Linked DNA regions of Homo sapiens: region 2 is linked to region 1. A link means that fine-mapping ties the variant in region 1 to the expression of a gene that starts in the linked region. Tissue or cell type: blood mononuclear cells. Region 1 holds a variant in brackets; the other region holds the start of a gene. All regions are shown on one strand. Distances are from middle to middle.

Region 1 (7,715 bases):
CGTGAGGTTCCTGGAGCTGCAGAAGACGCTGAGCTCATCCGCGTCGTCATCGTAGCTGCAGACACAGGCGGCCGGGCACGCTGGGCCCTCGGCTTCCCCCGGCGTTCCGGGGTCTGCTCCCTCCAGGCTGCGGGGGCCCAGTGCCACCCAGGACAGCAGCAGCAGCGCCAGGGCCAGGCCTCCTGCGGGGGGAGAGGCTTGGGGAGGCGGCCCGAGGAGGGCTCTGCCCGAGTGAGCCTGATACCAGCACAGCCGGAAGCGGCGCTCAGGTGTGAACTGAGGCTCGAGGTCACCCGCTGAGATGCGAAGAAGCCGGTGAGCCCCACAGGTCCTCCGGCTCAAAAGCTGACACTGCGCTTCCCACCCCATGGGACAGAGGAGTGGCCGCCCCGCCCCGCTGCACAGACGCTCAGGGCTTGGCTCTCCAGCTGTGCGCAGGCCACGTGGGCTCGGCCAGGCTGGGTCTCGGGCTGTCTGGCCATGTGGCAGCCGCACCCCCAAGGCAGGCGCTTGAGCCAGGCCAGTCTGCCACGTTGGCCTAGAGGAAGGGGAGGGAACTGAGCCATTGGCCAAGGTCCGGCCATTTTCAGAATATTCTGCAGCAGGTCTTGGTGGGCACTCGCTCACTGCCCTCAGAGGCTGGACAGGGAGCTGGGCACCTCCTGCCCCAGTTAGGCCCCCCAGCGGGGTCTCACCTGCCTGCATCCAGGCCTTGGTCGGGTGCTGCGGGAGGGGACCGGGGCACCGCCGTCGGGGGACAGGTAGGAACCCTGGACCGTCGGCCACCAAAGCTCACATTGCCTTTCAGGACAAGGGGCCACAGGCCCCACAGACCCAGCCAGCAGGCTCCCAAGCAGCGATGACCCAAAACCTCTACTGTATGGCCCCCCCATCCTCAGAGAGTGTGGAATTGCTGGGATGGTGGCAGGGGCGAGGTGGGGCCCCCCCGACTGCCCTTCTGTCACGATGGGTTGGGAGTGGCCTGAGCCAGCTCTGGAGCTCAGCTCAGGCTTGGGGGTGGCCGAAGCTGCAAGGGGTCACCCCACAGAGACAATGGGGTGTGAGCCAACGTCTCCTGCCTGGGCCGGGCCCACAACGCGGGCCGTGCGGGGCACTTCCCGCCGCTGTGCTGGGAGCTGAAGGGTCCGGCCTGCACCTGGCCCTCCTCCCCTGTGCCGCCGCCAGCGCCCTTAGGGTGGAGGACGGGACAGAGACCCCTGGTGCCAGGCACAGCTGTGTCCCCCTGCCAACCCCAGCAGCCGCATTTCCGACTGTGGGCTCCCCAGAGTCCCCCGCAGACCCCCAGAGCTGAGCCCCCCAGAGCTTCCTTGGGGGCTACCCCGGCCTCTCCCCAGCGGGCTCAGGGTCACAGACTGGCCACCCCTAGAGTGGGTGGCGGGGCACTCGGGGGCCTCACCTTTCCTCAGGGCCATCCTGCATGCAGGGCAGGCTGCAGGCAGGCAGCGAGGGAGGGTACGTCTGCTGTGCCGGCCACCCCTGCCCTCTGGATTTCCCCACTGCGGGGCAGCCCGCGCCTGTCACCTGGCTGGCCCAACCCAGCTGGCCCTGGCTCTGTTAACCCCCTCGTGCCGGGCGGCCGGCATCAGCCCGGAGCCCTGGGGTGCAGACAGTGCAGGGGGTGAGGGAGCTTCAGTCGGGGCCCGAGGTAGCCGTAATGCGGCCCTGGGGGCTGACGGCCAGTGCCCGGGCCCCCTGCAGGGCTGACTGGGGAGGGCTGGGCAGCCAGGTTGGGGTGGGGACCCCTTGCAGCAGCCTGGGAGGGGCTGGGGCTTGAGGCCGGTTTGGGGAGCCCAGGGTTTTACCAGGTCCTGTTGCGGGCAGGGGGCTCCTCGGGCAGCTCCTGGGGTCTTGAGCCCACCCCTGGCCTGAGTAGCCAGCCGTGTGGGGCTAAGGGGCTGCCGCCCCTTCCCCGTGCCCCACCCAGCCATCCACCCGCCCTCCCGGGGGTTCCCTACAGCCTGGGTGGGAGCTGCCGTTTGGGCTTCAGGCCCACGGTGCTGTCCAGGGCCCAAGCTCACCCTGCCTCTCCCGTGACCCCAGGGGCGCTGGTGTCTGGCCACTGCCCCGCCCCCAGCCTCTTCTAGGAATGCCTGGCAGGGCTGCAGGCGCCTGTTTGCTTTTGCCCTGCGCCATCCTCGGGGAGTGTGTGGGGGTGGCCTGGCCATGGGAGCCAGGTCTTGTGCCTCAGACAAGCCTCACCTGCCCCTTGCTGTCCCCCAAGGCTCTGGTGAGGGCCTGGCCGCCCCACAGTCACCGCTTGTGTGCAGAGAGGCCACAGGAATGTGTGCCCAGCCATGTC[C/T]AAGGCCACCCCTGGGCTCCGTCTCCACCTGCCTCCAGAGGCCCCTGGTTCCCCTCCACCTGCTCAAACCACTTCCCAACCAGTCGCTCTCTCCCCCAGGGCCTGAGCAGGTGCAGCCCCTCCCCTCCAGGTCCCTGCAGGCCCCTCCCCTGGCTGTCAGTGGGGCCTGCCCACCAGTCCCTCGGCAGTGGGAAAGTGTGCAGGGAAGCAGCCGGAAGGGGTGCAGGCGGGGGCACAGCCAGGGCTCGGGGAGACCACAGTTTTCCAGGGCCCTACCCCATCCTCAGCTCCGGCCTCACCTGGCAGGCCCCGTGCAGAGCTGTGGGAAGCCGCCGGCCCACTGTCATCGTCTTCCCTTTATCGAGAATTGATCATTTTCCAGGTGGCGTCTCGGCTCCTCTTCTGAGAAATTATAGATCCACGGGGAGAAAGTCCACACCCAGAAAGACCCACGATCCGTTTACTCAGCAGAAAACGCAGACTCAGCAGGGGCCTGGGGCCTGAGGCCAGCAGACCCGGGCGGCCTCCTCTCAGGAGAGGTCCCCGTGGGGGCCCCGGCCTCCGTCAGGCCGCGCACCCCACCTGGGAGCCCCACACATTCCAGGTGGGAAGGGAGAATCTGTCCCTGTTCTCTTCCTTTGGGAGGGGCCGGGTGTCGCGGGCGGGCAGAGCCTCACCAGGGTTGCGGCAGCCGCGTAAGGGGGCTCCAGGCCTCTTTGATTCCTGTGGTAACGCAGAGGCCTACACACACATTCAGCCCATTGAGTTCCAGAGGCCCCCATCACTGCCGCCACCCCCAATGGCCCCACTCCCCGTGGCCTCTCCCAGCTCAAGGCCGGTGGCCTCCCAGGCTCCTCCATGAGCCGCATTCTGCCTGTCTTCAGGCCGCACAGGGCCTGGCTTTCTGTAGGACAGGACCCGAGGGAGGTGAGGCCATGTCTAGGTCACGTCCTGGAATACATCTGTCCCTGTCCTTCTCACTGTTTCCAGCAATGCCACCGAGCCCTGTGGCTCTGCATCCTGTGGGTGCATACCTGTCTACACTCAGGCCAGTGGCGAGTGGACGGTGGCCATCACCTGGGAGACCGAGCATCTTGTCCAGCACACAGCCACAGGGTCATCTGGCCTCAGCCACTGCTGGTTTCGGTCTCTTGCCGATTTTCTAGTTAGCTGGCTGATTTCTGATTTGCAAGATACAAGAAAAAACAAAAGCATTCAGCACGCACACTCAGGTGTGTGGCCTTTCTGTCCTCTCGTTAGGATTCTGGTGAGTTTTTTTTTTTTTTTTTTTTTTGAGATGGAGTTTTGCTCGTTGCCCAGGCTGGAGTGTAATGGTGCGATCTCAGCTCACTGCAACCTCTGCCTCCTGGGTTCAAGCAGTTCTCCTGCCTCAGCCTCCCAAGTAGCTGGGATTATAGGCATGAACCACCACACCTGGCTAATTTTTATTTTATTTTATTTATTTATTTTTTGAGATGGAGTCTCAGTCTGTTACCAGGGCTGGAGTCCAGTGGTGTGATCTCCGCTCACTGCAACCTCCACCTCCCATGTTCAAGCGAGTCTTCTGCCTCAGCCTCCCAAGTAGCTGGGATTACAGGCATGAGCCACCACGCCTGGCTAATGTTTTGTATTTTTAGTAGAGACAGGGTTTCACCATGTTGGCCAAGCTGGTCTCAAACTCCCGACCTCGGGTGATTTGCCGGCCTCGGCCTCCCAAAGTGCTGGGATTACAGGTGTGAGCCACCGTGCCCAGCCCCTAATTTTGTATTTTTAGTAGAGACAGGGTTTCTCCATGTTAGTCAGGCTGGTCTCAAACTCCTGACCTCAGGTGATTTGCCTGCCTTGGCCTCCCAAAGCTCTGGGATTACAAGCGTGAGCCACCGGGCCGGCGAGAGTTCTTAATTTTAATTGAGATGATATCCCTTAAATGTTGAGGTTGATTCCTCAGATACCAACAACAAAGATGATTTGGTTTGGCCTCACATCCCCACCCAAATCTCACCTTGAACTGTAATAATTCCCATGTGTCAAGGGCAGGGACAGGTGGAAACAACTCAATCAGGGGGCAGTTTTCCCCATACTGTTGTGGTAGTAACTCTCATGAGACCTGATGGTTGTTTTTGTTTTTTGTGTGTTTGTTTGAGATGGAGTCTTGCTCTGTCTCCCAGGCTGGAGTGCAGTGGCACAATCTCGGCTCACGGCAAGCTCCACCTTCCAGGTTCATGCCATTCTCCTGCCTCAGCCTCCCAAATAGCTGGGACTACAGGTGCCCACCACTACGCCCGGCTAATTTTTTGTATTTTCAGTAGAGATGGGGTTTCACCGTGTTAACCACGATGGTCTCGATCTCCTGACCTCGTGATCCACCCGCCTCAGCCTCCCAAAGTGCTGGGATTACAGGCGTGAGCCACTGCGCCTGGCTGAGACCTGATGGTTTTATAAATGGGAGTTCCCCTGCAGACGCTCTCTTGCCTGCCGCCGTGTAAGACCCTCTGCCTTCCGCCATGATTGTGAGGCCTCCCCAGCCATGTGGAACTGTGAGTCCATTAAACCTCTTTCCTTTATAAATTACCCAGTCTCAGGTATGTCTTTATCAGCAGCATGAGAAAAGACTAATACAGTAAATTATTACTGTAATAATTATTATTACAGTGGGACACTGCTGTAAAGATACCCAAAAATGTGGAAGTGACTTTGGAACTGGGTAGCAGGCAGAGGTTGGAACCGTTTGGAGGGCTCAGAAAAGGACAGGAAGATGTGGGAAAGTCTGGCGCTTCCTAGACTTGCTGAATGCCTTTGACCAAAATCCTGATAGTGATATGGCCAACAAAGTCCAGGCTGAGGTGGTCTCGGAGAAGAGGAACTTGTAGGAAACTGGAATAAAGGTGACTCTTGCTATGTTTTAGCAGAGACTGGTGGCATGTTGCCCCTGCTCTAGAGATTTGTGGAACTTTGAACTTGTGAGAGATGATTTAGGGCATCTAGTGAAATAAATTTTTTTTTTTTTTTCTGAGATGGAGTCTCACTTTGTCACCCAGGCTGGAGTGCAGTGGCGCAATCTCGGCTCACTGCAACCACTGCCTCCCATGTTCAAGCGATTCTCCTGTCTCAGCTTCCTGAGTAGCTGGAACTACAGAAGCACGCTGTCACACCCAGCTAATTTTTGTATTTTTAGTAGAGACAGGGTCTCACCATGTTGGCCAGGAGCGTCTTGATCTCCTGACCTTGTGATCTGCCCGCCTTGGCCTCCCAAAGTGCTGGGATTACAGGCATGAGCCACTGCGCCCAGCCAGTGAAAGAAATTTCTAAGCAGCAAACTGTTCAAAATGTGACCTGGATGCTGTTAAAAGCATTCAGTTTTATGTATTCACAAAGATATGGTTTGGAATTGGAACTTATGTTTAAAAGGGAAGCCAACCATAAAAGACTGAAAAATTTGCAGCGTGATGATGCCATAAAACAGAAAAGCCCATTTTCTGAGGAGAAATTTAAGCTGGCTGCAGAAATTTGCATAACAAGGAGCCAAATGTTAATCACCAAGACAGTGGGGAAAATGTCTCCAGGGCATGTCAGACGTCTTCAGGGCAGCCCCTCCCATCACAGGCCCCGAGGCCTAGGAGGAAAAAATGGTTTAGTGGACCAGACCCAGGGCCTTGCTGCTTTGTGTAGTCTCGGGTGCCCTGCCTCCCAGCCATGGCTAAAGGAGCCAAGGTACAGCTCAGACTGTTGCTTCAGAGGGTGCAAGCCCCAAGCCTTGGCAGTTTCCATGTGGTATTGGGCCTGCAGATGCCCAGAAGTCAAGAATTGAGGTTTGGGAGCTAGGTGCAATGGCTCACGCCTGTAATCCCAACACTTTGGGAGGCCGAGGCAAGTGGATCACCTGAGGTCAGGAGTTTGAGACCAGCCTGGCCAACATGGTGAAACCGTGTCCCTACTAAAAATACAAAAATTAGCCAAGCATGGTGGTGCACGCCTCTAGTCCCAGCTACCTGGGAGGCTGAGGTGGGAGAATCACTTGAACCTGGGAGGCAGAAGTTGCAGTGAGCCAAGATCATGCCACTGCACTCCAGCCTGGGTGACAGAGCAAGACGCCATCTCAAACATAAATAAATTAATAAATTAAAAATTCAGGTTTAGGAACCTCTGCCTGGATTTCAGAGGATGTATAGGAACTACTGGATGTCCAGGCAGAAGTGTGCTGCAGGGGTAGAGTCTTCACAGAGAACCTCTGCTAGGGCAATACGGAAGGGAAATGTGGGGTTGGATCCCTCCACAGGGTCCCTACTAGGGCACTGCCTAGTGGAGCTGTGAGAAAAGGGCCACCATCCTCCAGACCCCAGAATGGTAGATCCACCGACAACAGCTTGCACCATGGACCTGGAAAAGCCACAGACACTTGTCACAAGCCTGTGAAAGCAGCTGGGAGGGGGGCTGTACCCTGCATAGCCACAGGGGTGGAGCTGCCCAAGGCCTTGGGAACCCAGCTCTTGCATCAGTGTGATCTGGATGTGAGACATGGAGTCAAAGGAGATCATTTTGGAGCTTTAAGATTTGACTGCCCTGTTGGATTTCAGATTTGCCTGGGGCCTGTAGCCCCTTTGTTTTGGCCAATTTCTCCCATTTGGAATAGGTGTATTTACCCAATGCCTGTACCCCCACTGTATCTAGGAAGTAACTCACTTGGCTTTTGATTTTACAGGCTTATAGGCAGAAGGGACTTGCTTTGTCTCAGATGAGACTCTGGACTTGGACTTTTGGGTTAATGCTGGAATGAGTTAAGACTTTGGGGGATGGCTGGAAGGGCATGATTGTGTTTTGAATTGTGAGGACATGCGGTTTAGGAGGGGCCAGAGGTGGAATGATATGGTTGGGCTGTGTCCCCACCCAAATCTTATCTTGAATTGTAGTTCCCATAATCCCCACATGTTGTGCACGGGACCCAGTGGAATGGCCGAATCATGGGCGTGGTTCCTGCCATCCTGTTCTCTTGAAAGTGAGTTCTCATGAGATCTGATGGTTTTATAAGGGGCTTCCCCCTTCACTGGGCACTAATTTCTCTCTCCTGCTGCCATGTGAAGAAGCACATGTTTGCGTCCTTACCCACCATGATTGTAAGTTTCCTGAGGCCTCGCCAGCCTTGTGGAACTGCAAGTCAATTAAACCTCTTTTCTTTATAAATTACCCACTCTCAGGCAGTCCTTTATAGCAATGTGAGAATGGACTAATGCAGATGGGAAAACGGCAAAATTCTTAATGTCCTCTATTTTATTTTTACGGTTTCAAGTACTATTTTGTGCCAACACTGTCCTGTTTTCCCTTCTAATCGGCCTCTTAAGAGGGAGAGGCCAGGCTCAGGGTTAACTGTTCCCGTGTGGTGGTTACCATCAGCCTCTGT
Region 2 (7,159 bases), 31 kb after region 1:
TTTTTTTTTCTTTTTTTTTTGAGACGGAGTCTCGCTCTGTCGCCCAGGCTGGAGTGCAGTGGCGCGATCTCGGCTCACTGCAAGCTCCGCCTCCCAGGTTCACGCCGTTCTCCTGTCTCAGCCTCCTGAGTAGCTGGGACTACAGACGCCCGCCACCATACCCGGCTAATTTTTTGTATTTTTTAGTAGAGACGGGTTTCATGGTGTTAGCCAGGATGGTCTCGATCTCCTGACCTTGTGATCCGCCCACCTCGGCCTCCCAAAGTGCTGGGATGACAGGTGTGAGCCACCGCGACCAGCCAAGACCTTGTCTTTGCAAATTTAAAAATTAGCCAGGCATGGTGGTGCATGCCTGTGGTCCCAGCTACTCCGGAGGCTGAGGCAGGAGGATCACTTGAGCCCAGGAGTTTGAGGCTGCAGTGAGCTATGACTGTGCCACTGCACTCCAGCCTGGGTGACAAGACAATAACCTGTTCCTTAAAAAAAAAAAAAAAAAAAAAAAAAAAAAGGAATATCTTCATATATCCCTGAGGAGAACACAGGAACTAACTCATGCTCACATTCATGGAAATCAATTGTTTCAGACTTACGATCTCTATTTTCTTTTTTGAGAACTCTAAAAGGACAGGAAGGCCAGCTTGTGATTGTGAGGCGAACCACTGCCAGTGCTGGATTATTCACACCCCGGACTCAGGGACAGAATGTGAAGAAGGGAACACAGACTAGGGGTGCCCCCGCCTGGCCATCTGCCCTCCAGCAAGCTGTGCTGCCACCACTGACTAAGCGAGCCTGCGTTCCATGCAGTTACAGCCCTTCTCAGCCTCTAGCCAGAAAGAACCAATACTTGACGGCAGGCTGAGGCAGGAGAATTGCTTGAATCCGGGAGGTGAAAGTTTCAGTGAGCCAAGATCGCCCTACTGCACTCCAGCCTGGGCAACAGAGTGAGACAGTCTCAAAAAAAAAAAAAAACAAACAAACAATACTTGCTCTTGAACAGCACGAATCTGAGATATGCACAAAAATCAGCAGTTCCTTTGAGACGGAAAGTTGGCCACAACTGCCCCCAGATTCAAGTGTGGAGGACACAAAACCACCATCCAACTGACCCAAAGGACTCTGCCACAGGGGCCCAGAAGGCCCAAGAGCTGGGAGGAGTGGGTGACCAAGGGACAAAAGTGTCTGCCACCCAGTCGACCAATGCAAAAATATTTTCAGCAATGAAACTCCTACTAAATCTAAAAATACCTGGGGGCCCCGACAATACCTTCAGTTCCGCTCTACACGGGGAAGAAACCACAGAAGGTGGCAGAGGACAGTGCAGTCCTGGGGTAGGTGCCACGGCAGGGGCTTCTCCCAAAAGGGATCCAGAAATGGGCAGCAGCCACCAACTGACAGACACACGCGTCTCCAGGGCCCACCGAAATGCGGAATCCGACCTTATTTCCACAGCCGGGGAAACTGCCCAAACTATAGTTTCAATCACTGCACAAAGATATCCTATTACCCGCCTGACAACCAGCTGGGCATTTTCCAGATCATTCTCCTCAGGAACAATAATACCAAGATTTCTATATGAGCAGCTTCCTGTGTTATTCCCCTTCCCCTTAGCCTCAGCACCACCCCAGCCCAAGGAGCACAACAAGCAGAGTGTGGGTGCTGGGGGCTGCAGGTGGGGTGCAGAAGGGTTGTGACAGGATTCCGAGTGCCGGGCGTCCTCCTGGAAAGGAGCTCCATTACAAACAAGGAGCAGAACATTACAAACAAAAATACTGCCCACGTGCGGTGGCTCACGCCTGTCATCCCAGCACTTTGGGAGGCCGAGGCGGGCGGATCGCGGGGTCAGGAGTTCGAGACCAGCCTGACCAATATGGTGAAACCCTGTCTCTACTAAAAAATACAAAAATTAGCTGGGCGTGGTGGCGAGCGCCTGTAGTCCCAGCTACTCAGGAGGCTGAGGCAGGAGACTCGCTTGAGCCCGGGAGGCAGAGGTTGCAGTGAGCCGAGATTGGCCACTGCACTGCCCAGGCGAAGAAAATGTCATTTACAACTGGTGCTCAGCCTCCCCTGGAGACCATCACAGCCTCCTGAAGAAGCTGACAACCCAGGGAGGTGCCTTTATTTCTGAGGAAAGACGCAGCTGGTGCCAACACCAGCAGAAACCGTATTCCCTTTCCATATCACTCAGCCCAGCACTGCCTGGCAAATGTTCCCGGCTTGCTGTTTTGTAACTGTAATACTTTGTACAAACAGGTCAAGGACCTGCAGCCTGGGGCCTGGACCAAGTCCAGAAACATGTTCGGTTTGGCCCCAAAAACAAAAAAAAATTGAGATATGGTCTCACTCTGTCCCCTAGGCTACAGTGCAGTGGTGCGATCAAGGGTCACTGCAGCCTCGACCTCCTGGACTCAAGCGATCCTCCCACCTCAGCCTCCAAAGTGACTGAGACTACAGTTGTGTGCCACCACGCCCGGCTGATTTTGTTTAGTTTTTGTAGCGATGAGGTCTCAACATGTTGCCAGGCTGGTCTGGAACTCCTGGACTCAAGCGATCCTCCCGCCTCGGCCTCCCAAAGTGCTGGGATGACAGGCGTGCGTCACTGCACTTCTTTTTTAAATCAGGAAGTTTCACAGCATCTTGCTTCCCTTGAACTGGGCGGCACCAAATACGGGGGCTGGGGCCTCCCTTAGAATGGGGTACGCACGCCCTGCCGATGCACACAGTCCCGCTGGAACTCTCTGCCTGGACCCTTATGAATGTCCCTAAAACTGTAATTCTGAGGACCTCAAAATCCATGTCCTTTCCTTAGCAATGGCGACATTCTACCCCCTGCAGAGCCTTGACAGCTTTCGGCGAGATCTGGAAACCGCCAGGGACGCCTCCCTGTCTGCGCCTCCGCCCGCCCAGTGCCCTGCGCTGCGCACCCGCCCGGGGCGCTGGCCTGGCCCGGCCGCGCGACCACCTCGGGCGAATGACACGCCGGGTCCCCAGACGGGGGCTCCGGCGCCGGGCGGGCAGCTCCACCACCGCAGGCGGCGCCGCGAGACCGCGGTCCTTGCAGCGGGGCAGCAGGTGCGGGGTGGGCCAGGCGTCCCGGGGCCCTGCCCGCTGCGCCTCAGAGCCGCGCCCCAGGCTCTCCTCGGCGCCGGCCCGGGCAGGACGCGATGCCCTGGAGGCGTCAGGGGCGCGGCCGGCCCAGCCCGAGCGTGGAGGCCGCGGCGGACGCAGGCCTGGCCCTGCTTACCTAGCGCTTTCCGCACCCGCGGCCCCGCGCCCGCTCCGCGCCAGCCTCAGCGCCTGCGCCGCCTCCGCTCGAGCCCGGCAGCGCGGCCTTAGGCACCTGCGCAACAGACACCGCGTCAGCGGTCGCCAAACGACGGCCCGGCGCCGCCCGCTGCCCGCCCCGCCAGGCCCGCGTCCCCCGGCCCGCACCGCCCCGCCGCACCCACCGAGGCCTCGGCGGGCGCAGGCGGCTCCCAGCGCGGCGAGGCTGCGGCGGCCGAGCAGCCCTCGGCCCACCACCATGACCCGGGCCGGGCTGGACTGCCGAGCTGCCCAGGACTGCAAAACACCGGCGTCGGCGCGTCGCAGCCAATCAGCGCCCGCCTCGCGCTGCCCTCAGCCAATCAGCGTCCACCTCGCACCGTCCGCCAACCAATCAACGCGCTCGCGCTCAACTTGTTTTGTCCGCGAGCCCCGACTGCCACGGGCCGGGAGACGGGCCTGGGAGCGGCGGCGGCGGCCCGAGAGCTGCGCCGGGAGAGCTGTGCCGCGAGCCTCCGCCTCTTTTTTGGCACCGCACAGTGGATCCCTGGAGGCCGAGCGCCACGCCGCCCGGGTACCCGGCAGATCGCGAGGTGGAACGGGCCGTCGCTGCGGGGGACAGCGTTCCGAGGCAGTTGGTCCTCTCCGGGATGCCGTAGGCATCAGCTGACCGGCCCAGCCCACGTGACTACAGGGGCACTTGATGGGAATCATGGCAGCATCCAGGCCATTGTCCCGCTTCTGGGAGTGGGGAAAGAACATCGTCTGCGTGGGGAGGAACTACGCGGACCACGTCAGGGAGATGCGCAGCGCGGTGTTGAGCGAGCCCGTGCTGTTCCTGAAGCCGTCCACGGCCTACGCGCCCGAGGGCTCGCCCATCCTCATGCCCGCGTACACTCGCAACCTGCACCACGAGCTGGAGCTGGGCGTGGTGATGGGCAAGCGCTGCCGCGCAGTCCCCGAGGCTGCGGCCATGGACTACGTGGGCGGCTATGCCCTGTGCCTGGATATGACCGCCCGGGACGTGCAGGACGAGTGCAAGAAGAAGGGGCTGCCCTGGACTCTGGCGAAGAGCTTCACGGCGTCCTGCCCGGTCAGCGCGTTCGTGCCCAAGGAGAAGATCCCTGACCCTCACAAGCTGAAGCTCTGGCTCAAGGTCAACGGCGAACTCAGACAGGAGGGTGAGACATCCTCCATGATTTTTTCCATCCCCTACATCATCAGCTATGTTTCTAAGATCATAACCTTGGAAGAAGGAGATATTATCTTGACTGGGACGCCAAAGGGAGTTGGACCGGTTAAAGAAAACGATGAGATCGAGGCTGGCATACACGGGCTGGTCAGTATGACATTTAAAGTGGAAAAGCCAGAATATTGAGTTATTTCTTAACAAGTTTCGAGAGAGAAGGGAGCAAGACAAGAGCAAGCAACGGCTATTAAATGTCACAATCCTTTAATTAGAAACCATTTATTGGCCGGACGCGGTGGCTCACGCCTGTAATCGCAGCACTTTGGGAGGCCGAGGCGGGCGGCTCACGACGTCAGGAGATCCAGACCATCTTGGCTAACAGGGTGAAACCCCGTCTCTACTAAAAATACAAAAAATTAGCCGGGCGTGGTGGCGGGCGCCTGTAGTCCCAGCTACTCTGGAGGCTGAGGCAGGAGAATCAATTGAACCCGGGAGGCGGAGCTTACAGTGAGCTGAGATTGCGCCACTGTACTCCTGGGCAACAGCGAGACTCCGTCTCAAAAAAAAAAAAAAAAAAAGAAACCATTTATTTTAAAAATGATTAGATTGCTATGCCTCAACTCATAGAAGATGAACCCTTCAAGAAAACGTGAAGTAGAACGGGTGGGCCAGAAATGAAAACAGGCAAGTAAAGTATTTCTTCGGAAAACATTTTATCAAACCAAATGTTAAAAAGACTTTCCTTTTGTAAAACTGGATTAGAGAAGACTTTTCAGTGGGTTATCTCTAGGATGATCAGTAGTTCAGCACTTAAAAACTGCAGAGAAAACTGAAAGTTATGTTCCAGATAACTTTCCGTTGTTTACCAAATTTTCTTAGATTTGGTCATCATCAGGAAGCATTTGTAAAAATAAAAATCTCCACAAATTACTGGCCCATCTCGGACTTGCTGAATCAATTTGATAGGATTAATCTCCAGTGAAGCTGTGTTTACAGGGCATTCCAAGTGATTCTTATCAGGAAATGTGAAAAACACTCCTGTACATAATCGGTTAATTTAAAATTTTACTTAATAAGTGAACAAGTAATGAAGATTTCACCTGTTTACTTAGGGTATCTACCCAGACCCATCGATTCTGAGTTCGGGAGATGATTTTGAAATTACTGTTTTCCAAATAAAGGTGCTCCCTTCTAAGTGGCTTACAAGGGTAATTTTTTTCCCCCCAGTAATGACGAGGAGGGATATTTCCTCCTTGTGGGGCTTCAGACCTTAGTCTTTGACCTTTGGCCTTCTGAGCACTGTGCTGTGTTAACACAGTTAATCAGCAACTGTACTTCCCAACCGGAGATAAGGAGGCTTTGTGGAAGTTGAATAGCCTGGGACTGCTGCTTTTGCTCTTGCCTGCACCCTCCTCTGAAAAAACATCCAGGCAAGATGCACAGCATAGCTGTCAATGCCTGGAGGAGTCCTTTGGGCTTCGGCAGGGGTTCCTGTTCGCGTTCACATCATCTGCTGGCCCCTGAAGAAAGCCTAGGACATCTGATTGAGTAGTAACGGTCCCCATGTATTGAACACAGTACTGTTAGGCACCATGCCAAGCAGTTTATTCTGTATTTCCACGTGTTATGTAACCAGCAACCAAGCCATAAGCTTAGTATGATCACTACCATCCCCATTACTCAGATGAAGACAGATCTAGAGGCTGCGAAGGCTGGCTAAAGTCACTCAGCTTAGTGGCAGAGCCGAGATGTAACCCAGCTCCCCCAAGACCAGAACGTGAAGTTTTGACCACAATGCAGGCTGCATCTTGTAAGTAGATACATAAGAAGAATCAGACACTTAGGTATGCTGCAACCCCATGCTTAAATTATAATATAGTATGAGGAAGTGCCATAATTGGATTTCTTTATTAAGTATCATGCTATCTTAACTACTTTTAGTATTATTTTTTCATTGCTTGGCAATGCATGTAATTACAGAAGAGTCAGAAAATAGAGATTAGCAATTAGAACAAAACACCAAAAATTTCATCTACCCAGAGACAGCCAAAGTTAAGCATTTATTGCAAGTTCTTCCAAGTCTGTGGATATAATTGTAATTTTTTAAATAGAGTTTGCTCATACCATACAATTTTCTTTTTTTTCTTTCTTTCTTTTTTCTTTTTGAGATGGCGTTTAACTCTTTTTGCCCAGGCTGGAGTGCAGTGGCACAATCTCGGCTCACTGCAACCTCTGCCTCCCAGGTTCAAGTGATTCTCCTGCCTCAGCCTCCCAAGTAGCTCAGATTACAGGCATACGCCACCACACCCGGCTAATTTTGTATTTTTAGTAGAGACAGGGTTTCACCATGTTGGTCAAGCTGGTCTCGAACTCCTGACCTCAAGTGATCCACCCGCCTGGGCGTCCCAAAGTGCTGGGATTACAGGCATGAGCCACCGTGCCCAGCTATACCATACAATTATTTAACTTGCTTATTTCACTGTATATTGTGACCATCTTTTTCCTTGTTAGCTGACACATTTCTGCAGTACAACTTTCATGGATTGCATAAGATTCTGAAGTCAAGCCTCCATTTTTGGACCTTGAGATTGTCTCTAATGATTTGCTAGTATCAGCACATGTGCTGTTTTTTCCTTTGGCTAGGTTCCCATAAGTGGAAGAGTTGGATCAAAGGGCGTGCTCATGCTGGAAGTGTATTATTAGTCTGCT

What was found. PIP is the estimated chance that this variant, and not a neighbour inherited with it, causes the effect.
Region 2: it holds the start of HAGH, and the variant in region 1 is fine-mapped to the expression of HAGH in blood mononuclear cells (TOPMed, PIP 0.98).

Annotation. Positions count from the first base shown.
Region 1 is chr16:1,792,220-1,799,934 of GRCh38, forward strand. IGFALS (insulin like growth factor binding protein acid labile subunit) reads right to left here and starts at 1,486. Exons shown (of 2, transcript NM_004970.3): 1 at 1,418-1,486; 2 at 1-182. The coding sequence starts at 1,433. The variant C/T (reference allele first, on the strand shown) is at 2,321.
Region 2 is chr16:1,823,266-1,830,424 of GRCh38, forward strand. It overlaps HAGH (hydroxyacylglutathione hydrolase), which reads right to left and starts at 3,560. Exons shown (of 9, transcript NM_005326.6): 1 at 3,447-3,560. The coding sequence starts at 3,522. FAHD1 (fumarylacetoacetate hydrolase domain containing 1) reads left to right here and starts at 3,941. Exons shown (of 1, transcript NM_031208.4): 1 at 3,941-5,645. The coding sequence starts at 3,974. The coding sequence ends at 4,639. RefSeq lists enhancers at 637-706, 3,971-4,160 and a silencer at 2,911-3,880.